Regions from separate parts of the Homo sapiens genome. Here region 1 is linked to region 2. Evidence: fine-mapped QTL for protein levels in blood plasma. A gene starts in region 2. The other region holds a variant in brackets. All regions are shown on one strand. Distances are between the middles of the regions.

Region 1 (4,378 bases), 66 kb before region 2:
GACCTGGGTGGAGTAGAGATGGGAGGAGGGTGAGCTCCTCAACGGCCCTCACACCACCACACCCAGTGGCAAAAATCAGCAGAAAACCATCACTATCTACATGAACGTTCTAATTTTTTTCACTCACTATTGGTGGTAGTTAAATTTACCAATTTGCTCAAAGTTGCAAGATGATAAGAAATAACCCTTGGCTCAGCTGGGCACGGTGGCTCACGCCTGTAATTCCAGCACTTTGGGAGGCTGAGGCGGGTGGATCACCTGAGGCCAGGAGTTCGTGACCAGCCTGGCCAACATGGTGAAACCCCGTCTCTACTAAAAATACAAAAAATTAGCCGGGTGTGGTGGTGGGCGCCTGTAATCCCAGCTACTAGGGAGGCTGAGGCAAGAGAATTTCTTGAACCTGGGAGGCGGAGGCTGCAGTGAGTCGAGATCGCACCATTGTACTCAACCTAGGCAACAAGAGTGAAACTCTATCTCAAAAAAAAAAAAAATGCTGAGCACGGTGGCTCACGCCTGTATAGCAGAACTTTGGGAGGCCGAGGTGGGCTGATCATGAGATCAGCAGATCGAGACCATCCTAGCTAACATGGTGAAACCTTGTCTCAACTAAAAGTACAAAAAATTAGCCGGGCATGGTGGCATGCGCCTGTGGTCCCAGCTACTCATGAGGCTGAGGCAGGAGAATCGCTTGAACCCAGGAGGCGGAGGTTGCAGTGAGCCGAGATTGTGCCACCGCACTCCAACCTGGGCAACAGAGTGAGACTCCATCTCAAAAAGAAAAGAAAAGAAAAGAAAAAAGAAATAACCCTTGGCTAATGAGAAGCTAGAGGAGGCATGGGCAGCACTTGGAAATTGTGAACTCTGCAATTCAGAAGGAATGTTTAGTAGGCTGAGATGCCCCATCTGCATATCTGGATGTGACGGTATTGCCTTCTTTTTTTTTGAAGAGGGGGGTGAGGGGGATAGAGTCCCGCTCTGTCACCTGGGCTGGAGCTATGCAATCTTGGCTCACTGCAACCTCTGCCTTCCAGGTTCAAGCAATTCTTGTGCCTCAGCCTCCTGAGTAGCTGGGATTACGGGCATGCGCCATCACACCGAGCTGATTTTTGTATTTTTTTTTTTTTGAGATGGAGTTTTGCTCTTGTTGCCCAAGCTGGAGTGCAATGGTGCGATCTCAGCTCACTGCAACCTCCAACTTCTGGGTTCAGGCGATTCTGCCTCAGCCTCCTGAGTAGCTGGGATTACAGGCATGCGCCACCATGCCCAGCTAATTTTGTGTATTTTTTAGTAGAAACGGGGTTTCACCATGTTAGCCAGGCTGGTCTCAAATTCCTGACCTCAGGTGATCCACCCCCCTCGGCCTCCCAAAGTGCTGGGATTACAGGCATGAGCCACTGCACCCGGTCTGGTGTTGCCTTTTTTTAGGGATGTTGAAATGCATGTGGCTGTGATAACTGGAGAAAAGGAACAAAGTACACATTGGGTGCCTAGGGTTTACTTCTGGGCCTGCTTCTAGTCTCTCTCTACATGCTGTACCTAAGCAACCAGTCCCATGGCTCTAAGCGATGACTCCTAAACCTACATTTCCAGCTCTGGCCTGGCCTGGAAATCCAGTCTATACATATCCACCTGCCTGCTTATCAGCCCACTGGATGCCTCACAAGGATCTCAAATCAACATGTCCAAAACCAAGCTACTGATTTCTGCCTATCAGCACCCCCTAACCCAGCAGTCCCCAACCGTTTTGGCACCACGGACCAGGAAGATAATTTTTCCACTAACCGGCGGGTGGGAGTTGGGGGATGATTTTGGGATGATCTGAGCACATTAAGTTTATTGTGCACTTTTTTTTTTTTAAACGGAGTCTCGCTCTGTCACCAGGCTGGAGTGCAGTGGCACGATCTTGGCTCACTGCAACCTCCACCTCCTGGGTTCAAGCGATTCTCCTGCCTCAGCCTCCCAAGTAGCTGGGATTACAGGCACGTGCCACCATGGCCAGCTAAGTTTTGTATTTTTAGTAGAGACGAGGTTTCACCATGTTGGCCAGGATGGTCTCGATTTCCTGACCTCGTGATCTGCCTACCTCAGCTCCCAAAGTGCTGGGATTAGAGGCGTGAGCCACCGCGCCTGGCCTGTGCACTTTATTTCTATTATTATTACATTGTAATGTATAACAAAATAATTATACAACTCACCATCATGTGGAATTAGTGGGAGCCCTGAGCTTGTTTTCTCGCAACTAGACGGTCCCATCTGGGGGTGATGGGAGACAGTGACAGGTCATCAAGCATTAGATTCTTATAAGGAGTGCATGACCTAGATCCCTTGCATGCGCAGTTTACAATAGGGTTCGTGCTCCTATGAGAATCTAATGCTGTTGCGGATCTGAGAGGAGGCAGAGCTCAGGCGGTAATGGGAGCAATGGGTAGTGGCTGTAAATACAGATGCAGCTTTGCTCATTTGCCCACCACTTACTTCCTGCTGCGTGGCCTGGTTCCTAACAGGCCACAGACAGG[TACTGGTC/T]CATGGCCCAGTAGGTTAGGCCCTGCCCTAACCTACTCCTCCTTTAGTCTCCCCTTTTCCTTTCCTTTTCTTTTTCTTTCCTTCTTCTTTCTTTCTTTCTTTTTTTTTTTTTGAGACAGTCTCGCTCTGTCACCCAGGGTGGAGTGCAATGGCGCGATCTCAGCTCACTGCAACCTCCACCTCCCACGTTCAAGCAATTCTCCTGACTCAGCCTTCCAAGTAGCTGGGATTACAGGTGCCTGCCACCATGCCTGGCTAATTTTTGTATTTTTAGTAGATTAAAGGGTTTCACTATGTTGGCCAGGCTTTTCTCGAACTCCTGACCTCGTGATCCGCCTGCCTCGGCCTCCCAAAATGCTGGGATTACAGGCATAAGCCACCACGCCCAGCCCATTTTAATTTAATTTAAACTTAAATAGCCACATATGATTAGTGGCTGCCGTATTGAAGAGAGTAGCTCTAGATTTTTGCTTTGGGCAACTAGGTGGCTCATGGTGCCATTAATTGAAAAATGGGGCCGGGTGCGGTGGCTCACACCTATAATCCCAGCACTTTGAGAGGCCAAAGCGGGCAGATGACCTGAACTCAGGTGTTCGAGACCAGCCTGGCCAACATGCTAAAAATACAAAAAATTAGCTGGGCATGGTGGCATGCACCTGTAGTCCCAGCTACTCGGGAGGCTGAGGTGGGAGGAGCACTCAAGCCCCAGGAAGTGGAGGTTGCAGTGAGCCAAGATTGTGCCACTGCACTCCAGCCTGGGTGACAGAGTAAGACCCTGTCTCAAAAAGAAAAAAACAAGAGAGAGAGAGAGAAAGCAGGCTGCCAGCCACCAGCCTGGACAACATAGTGAGACCCCTTCTCTACAAAAAATCAAAAATTAGCCAGGCATGGTGGTGTGCGCCTGTAGTCTCAGCTACCCTGGAGACTGAGGTGGGAGGATCACTTGAACTGGGGAGGTTGAGGCTGCAGTGAGGTATGATTGTGCCACTGCCCTCCAACCTGGGCAGCAGAGCAAGACCTTGTCTCAAAAAAAAAAAAAAAAACAAAAAAAACAAAACAAAACAAAAAGAGGCCGGGTGCGGTGACTCACGTCTGTAATCCTAGCACTTTGGGAGGCCAAGGTGGGTGGATCATTTGAAGTCAGGACTTCAAGACCAGCCTGGCCAATATGGTGAAACCCCATCTCTACTAAAAATACAAAAATTAGCTGGACATGGTGGCACGCACCTGTAATCCCAACTACTTGGGAGGCTGAGGCAGGAGAATCGCTTGAACCTGGGAGATGGAGGCTGAGGTGGGCGGATCACTTGAGCCCAGGAGGTCCAGACCAGCCTGGGCAATATAGTGAGACCCAATCTCTACAAAAAATTTTTAAAAATTCGCCAGGCATGGTGGTGCACAGCTGTACTCCCAGCTACTTGGAAGGCTGAGGTGGAAGGATCACTTGAGTCCAGAAGGTTGAGGCTGCAGTGAGCCATGATTGTGTCACTGCACTCCAGCCTGGGTGATAAAGCGAGACCCTGTCTCAAAAAAAAAGTAATTGTTTTAAAAATGGTGACCAACCCAATCTGAAGTACCCAACAGGTGGCCAGGCATTGTGGCTCATGCTTGTAATCCCAGCACTTTGGGACGCCAAGGCGGGAGGCTCACTTGAGGCCATGAGTTTGAGACCAGCCTGGCCAACATGGTGAAATCCTGTCTCTACTAAAAATACAAAAATTGGCCGGGCGCGGTGGCTCACGCCTGTAATCCCAGCACTTTGGGAGGCCAAGACCGGCGGATCACGAGGTCAGAAGATCGAGACCATCCTTGCTAACACGGTGAAACCCCGTCTCCACTGAAAATACAAAAAAAT
Region 2 (4,317 bases):
GGTCAAGGCTGCAGTGAGCTATGATTGCACCACTGCATTTCAGCCTGGGCAACAGAATGAGACCCCATCTCTAAAAAAAGAAAAGAGAAAATAAAAATGCTAGAGTGGAGGCTGGGCTCAGTGGTTCATGCCTGTAATCCCAGCACTTTGGGAGGCCAAGGCAGGCAGATCACCTGAGGTCAGGAGTTCGAGACCAGCCTGGTCAACATGGCAAAACCCCTTCTCTACTAAAAATACAAAAATTAGATGGGTGTGGTGGCAAGGACCTGTAGTCCTAGCTACTTGGGAGGCTGAGGTGGGAGAATCACTTGAACCCAGGAAGGCAGAGGTTGCAGTGAGCCGAGATCGCACTGCTGCACTCCAGCCTTCCGACTCTGTCTCAAACAAAAAAAAAAAAAAGAAAGAAAGAAAGAAAAGATAATACTAGAGCAGGAAGGGAGGGATAGTGGAAGGGAAAGTCCTTCCTCAGGGTGGTGTTGGGGTCTAACCTGGAATTGCACAAGAAGCAAGTCTCCCCGAGGCTGGCAGGCAGGATGAGAGGCTGGACTGGCATAGACGGGTGGGCTGAGAATGAGGGGTACACCACAGCAGGCCCTGGGCTCAGGCAAGGAGCTGATTTTCTGGGGGCATAGATGAGATACCAACAGAAGTGCAAGACCCTATGTGACCAGTTAGAGTATGGGGGCTGCAGGGGTCAGCAGGGCAGACCTGGGGCGTGGGACAGTGCTGGCTCCCATTTCCTCCTCCCCAGTTCATTCTGCCCCGAGCCTTCCAGTCAACCTTTTCCCACCCCAGCCCCCCCGTCCCTTGGTGCTCCCTGCTCAGGGACCCTGGCCGTGTGTCCCCAGGTTTGTTACCTGCAGCGGCCCATCACCCTGTGGTGCGGCCTCAACCACTCCCTGGTGCTGAGCCAGAGCTCAGAGTTCAGCAAGGAGCTGCTGGGCTGCGGCTGTGGGGCTGGGGGCCGCCTCCCAGGCTGGCCCAAGGGGAGTGCCTCCTTCGTCAAGCTCCAAGTCAAGGTCAGAGCGGGGTCAGGAGAGTGGGCACCCAGGGAGGATGAGAGCCATGAACCAGGAAGCCCACAGGCTGTAGCTGGGGCTCCTGCAGGGACCCAGGGGGTCCCATTTCCCTAGCACCACCCCACCTCCCTCCTCTGCCGCACACCACGCTCTCTGCTTTCTCCCTTAGCAGACTGTGCTGGCCTTGCCCAACCTCACACACCCCTGGGACTTAGCCGGCTCAGGGCTGGTGTGAGAGGGAAGAATGCAATAGGCAGATTAGCCCGGGCACCCTGGGAAACCCTGCAAGGAAAGCACCACTCAGCCATGCCCCCTTTCTCTCCTCCTCCAAGGTCCCTCTGTGTGCCTGTGCCCTCTGTGCCACCAGGGAGTGCCTATACATCCTGTCCAGCCACGACATTGAGCAGCACGCCCCCTATCGCCACCTGCCAGCCAGCAGGGTGGTGGGGACTCCTGAGCCCAGCCTGGGGGCCAGAGCACCCCAGGACCCCGGGGGGATGGCCCAGGCCTGCGAGGAGTACCTCAGCCAGATCCACAGTTGCCAAACGTTGCAGGACCGCACGGAGAAGATGAAGGAGATCGTAGGGTGGATGCCCCTGATGGCCGCACAGAAGGACTTCTTCTGGGAGGCCCTGGACATGCTGCAGAGGGCTGAAGGAGGCGGGGGTGGTGTAGGGCCCCCAGCCCCTGAGACCTAATCCCCCTCATGCTAGCCTAGTCCCTGGAGGAGGGAGTCCGGCCCCAGGCCAGGGACTAAGGAGCAATGACCATTGTGCACATGCGTGTGGGAAGGGGTTGCTAGGGGGTGGGGACGGCTAACCAGGGTAAGAATGTTCAGGGGGCTGCCCAGGAGGGGCCCCCAACCTGACTATCATGGACAAGAGATTTGATGGATAGAATAAAAGGCTGCAGCGAGGCCTGGTGTGGAAGCCTTGGGGGCTGGGAGGGACAGGGGCAGGGATGGGGTGGGTGGGTGCCCGGCTTGGTGGGTGCAGGAGGGCAGGAGCCCAGGCAGGGGCAGGCAGCACAAGCAGCTCCAGGTCTCAGGTGCAGCAGAGCTGATGCTGCCTGAACCCTTCACATTGTTGTCCACTCCCTGCTCCCAAGAGCACACCTGGTCGTTTGGACTGGGAAGTTCTGGCCCTACCTTCTGGAACAACTCTATGCACAGATGCTCTTGGCTACCCCACTGGGATCCCCTGCCCACTAGACTTGTCCCCATCCTGAGGCAGCCTGTTCCTCCTGACCCCCGAAAGCTTCCCACCCATCTCCCTTCGGCCTGAAGCCAGCCCCCCTCCTCTCTCCCTTCTGTTTACCTCCCAGGTTTGGGCTCTATTTTCTACTCCTTCCACCTCTTCCTGAGTAACAAGGACACTCCCTTCATCCACACCCCATGCCTCCTGCCTTGCTTCCTGTACCTTCAAGTAGTTGGAAGAGGTCATGGGTGAGAATTCCTTCTCCTTGGCCTAGTCTGGCCCAGGTCTGGAGAGAAGGCAATGGAGATGTGAAGTGGAGGCCAGGTGTGGTGGCTACGCCTATAATCCCAGCACTTTGGGAGTCCGAGGTGGGCGGATCACCTGAGGCTAGGAATTTGAGACCAGCCTGGACAGCATGCTGAAACCCTGCCTCTACTAAAAATACAAAAATTAGCCAGGTGTGGAGGCATGCACCTGCAGTCCCAGCTACTCGGGAGGCTAAGGCACAAGAATTGCTTGAACCCGGGAGGCGGAGGTTGCAGTGAGCAGAGATCGCGCCACTGCACTCCAGCCTGGGTCACAGAATGAGACTCTGTCTCAAAAAAAAAAAAAAAAAAAAAAAGAAATTGAAGTGGAAAATGAGCTGGCAGGGGTGGTCAGGCAGGGGGTGAGCAATGAGGGCTCCTGAGCTGAGGAAGCAGGGGCGGGGGGAGGATGGGGGCTAGGGAGTCCTCAGAAGTTCCCGGAGATACTCCCTCACTGGACAGAGTGGGGTTCCCGATGACGTTACTTGAGGCCTGGGAGACGGCCTCTGCCCCTCACTGCTCCTCCCCCTCCTAAGGTCAACATTTATGTGTCCTAGACCTAGAGAGGTCCCAGGACACGCCACTGTCCCGCCTTCCCCATTGCCCGCCCCACTGGCCAGTCCCCACGCCCACACACCCAAGGCTGCCCCATCTGGCGCTGATTATCCTGCTGCTGCCGCCACCGCTGCTGCTGCTCTGCAAAATTCAGCTGCTGCCTCTGTCTTGAGGACCCCAGCGCCTTTCCCCCGGGGCCATGCTGCCTGCAGCCACAGCCTCCCTCCTGGGGCCCCTCCTCACTGCCTGCGCCCTGCTGCCTTTTGCCCAGGGCCAGACCCCCAACTACACCAGGTAGGTCTCTTGGCATCTTCCAGACAGCTCCAGTGAACTTCAGACCCCCGATTCCTTTGGGGTTATGCCTGGAGATATTTTGGGTTCCCTTGCTGACACACCACTCCCCAGATTCCCCACCGCCTCACCCTTCTCTGGCCCCCAAATCCTCCCCATCTGCTGCAAGACCTTGGTCTCCTGCAGGCCACCACTGCTCCCATTCCCCCACCTTCGTCCTCTGGTCTCTTAAGTCTCCCCACCCACCCAGATCCTTGACCCCCCATAGAACCCAAGAGAGAGCCAAGCTCCTGAACTTGCCTGGTAGCTGGATTCCAGGAAGGAATTCGAGAGGGATTGTAGGGGGAGGAGGGGGCAGTGAGTGGAGACTTGGGAGTCAGAATCTGAAGTAGTTTGGAACAGGGGCAGGGCTAAGGTGTGGAGCTCGCGGAGCCTGGCCTCCAGGTTCAATCAGAGGGCCATCGCCACTGCAGCTCCCTCCATCTCTCCACCCCCTCCCCCCCACCGCCTCGTGGCTGTGTCCACATCTGGAAGTAGTTAGGCGGCTCCTGTCCCTGGACTGCCAGGCAGAGTGAGGCGGGAGTCTGGAAGGGGGGCCGAGGAGGATTCCGGGAATTCCTGTTGGGGTGGGGGTGGGGACTCTTGGGGTTGGAGGGATGGTCGAGTTGCCAGGCCCACTTTTCCCTTATCTTTGTGGGAGTCTGGGACACCCCAGCCCTGTCCTGGCTGGTGGAAGCTGCCCCAGGTCTCTCAAGGCCTTTCCATTTCATCCCCCAGCTTCCCTCCTTGGAGTTTCATCCTCATCACCTCATCCCCATCTTGCCAGTGCTCCCCCGTCCCACCCGTCCCTGCTCTTTCCTGACCCCTTTTCTGTTCTCCAGACCCGTGTTCCTGTGCGGAGGGGATGTGAAGGGGGAATCAGGTTACGTGGCAAGTGAGGGGTTCCCCAAC

Alleles and levels. Positions count from the first base shown, and alleles are read on the strand shown. Strength reflects both the effect of a copy and how common the allele is.
In carriers of allele TACTGGTC in region 1, the plasma level of the protein whose gene starts at base 3,181 in region 2 tends to be higher than with T alone (moderate association).

The links. A credible set is the group of variants that fine-mapping cannot tell apart. PIP is the posterior inclusion probability: the model's chance that the variant is causal. The UK Biobank Pharma Proteomics Project read protein levels with antibody pairs (Olink). The fine-mapping took linkage between variants from a reference panel, not from the people measured, so its PIPs are less certain.
Region 1: its variant is the best candidate, but not a certain one, in a credible set for the plasma level of the PCOLCE protein (UK Biobank, PIP 0.60).

Annotation. Positions count from the first base shown.
Region 1 is chr7:100,533,506-100,537,883 of GRCh38, forward strand. No RefSeq gene overlaps it. Among named protein-coding and RNA genes, the nearest start is that of AGFG2, 3.5 kb to the right of the region's middle. RefSeq lists a cis regulatory region at 1-172. The variant TACTGGTC/T (reference allele first, on the strand shown) is at 2,517.
Region 2 is chr7:100,599,183-100,603,499 of GRCh38, forward strand. It overlaps PCOLCE (procollagen C-endopeptidase enhancer), which reads left to right and starts at 3,181. Exons shown (of 9, transcript NM_002593.4): 1 at 3,181-3,369; 2 at 4,248-4,317. The coding sequence starts at 3,275. It overlaps FBXO24 (F-box protein 24), which reads left to right. Exons shown (of 10, transcript NM_033506.3): 9 at 849-1,019; 10 at 1,352-1,935. The coding sequence ends at 1,717. It overlaps PCOLCE-AS1 (PCOLCE antisense RNA 1), which reads right to left. Exons shown (of 9, transcript NR_038910.1): 2 at 3,158-3,984; 3 at 2,438-2,501; 4 at 1,541-1,670; 5 at 858-1,007; 6 at 489-620. RefSeq lists an enhancer at 4,290-4,317.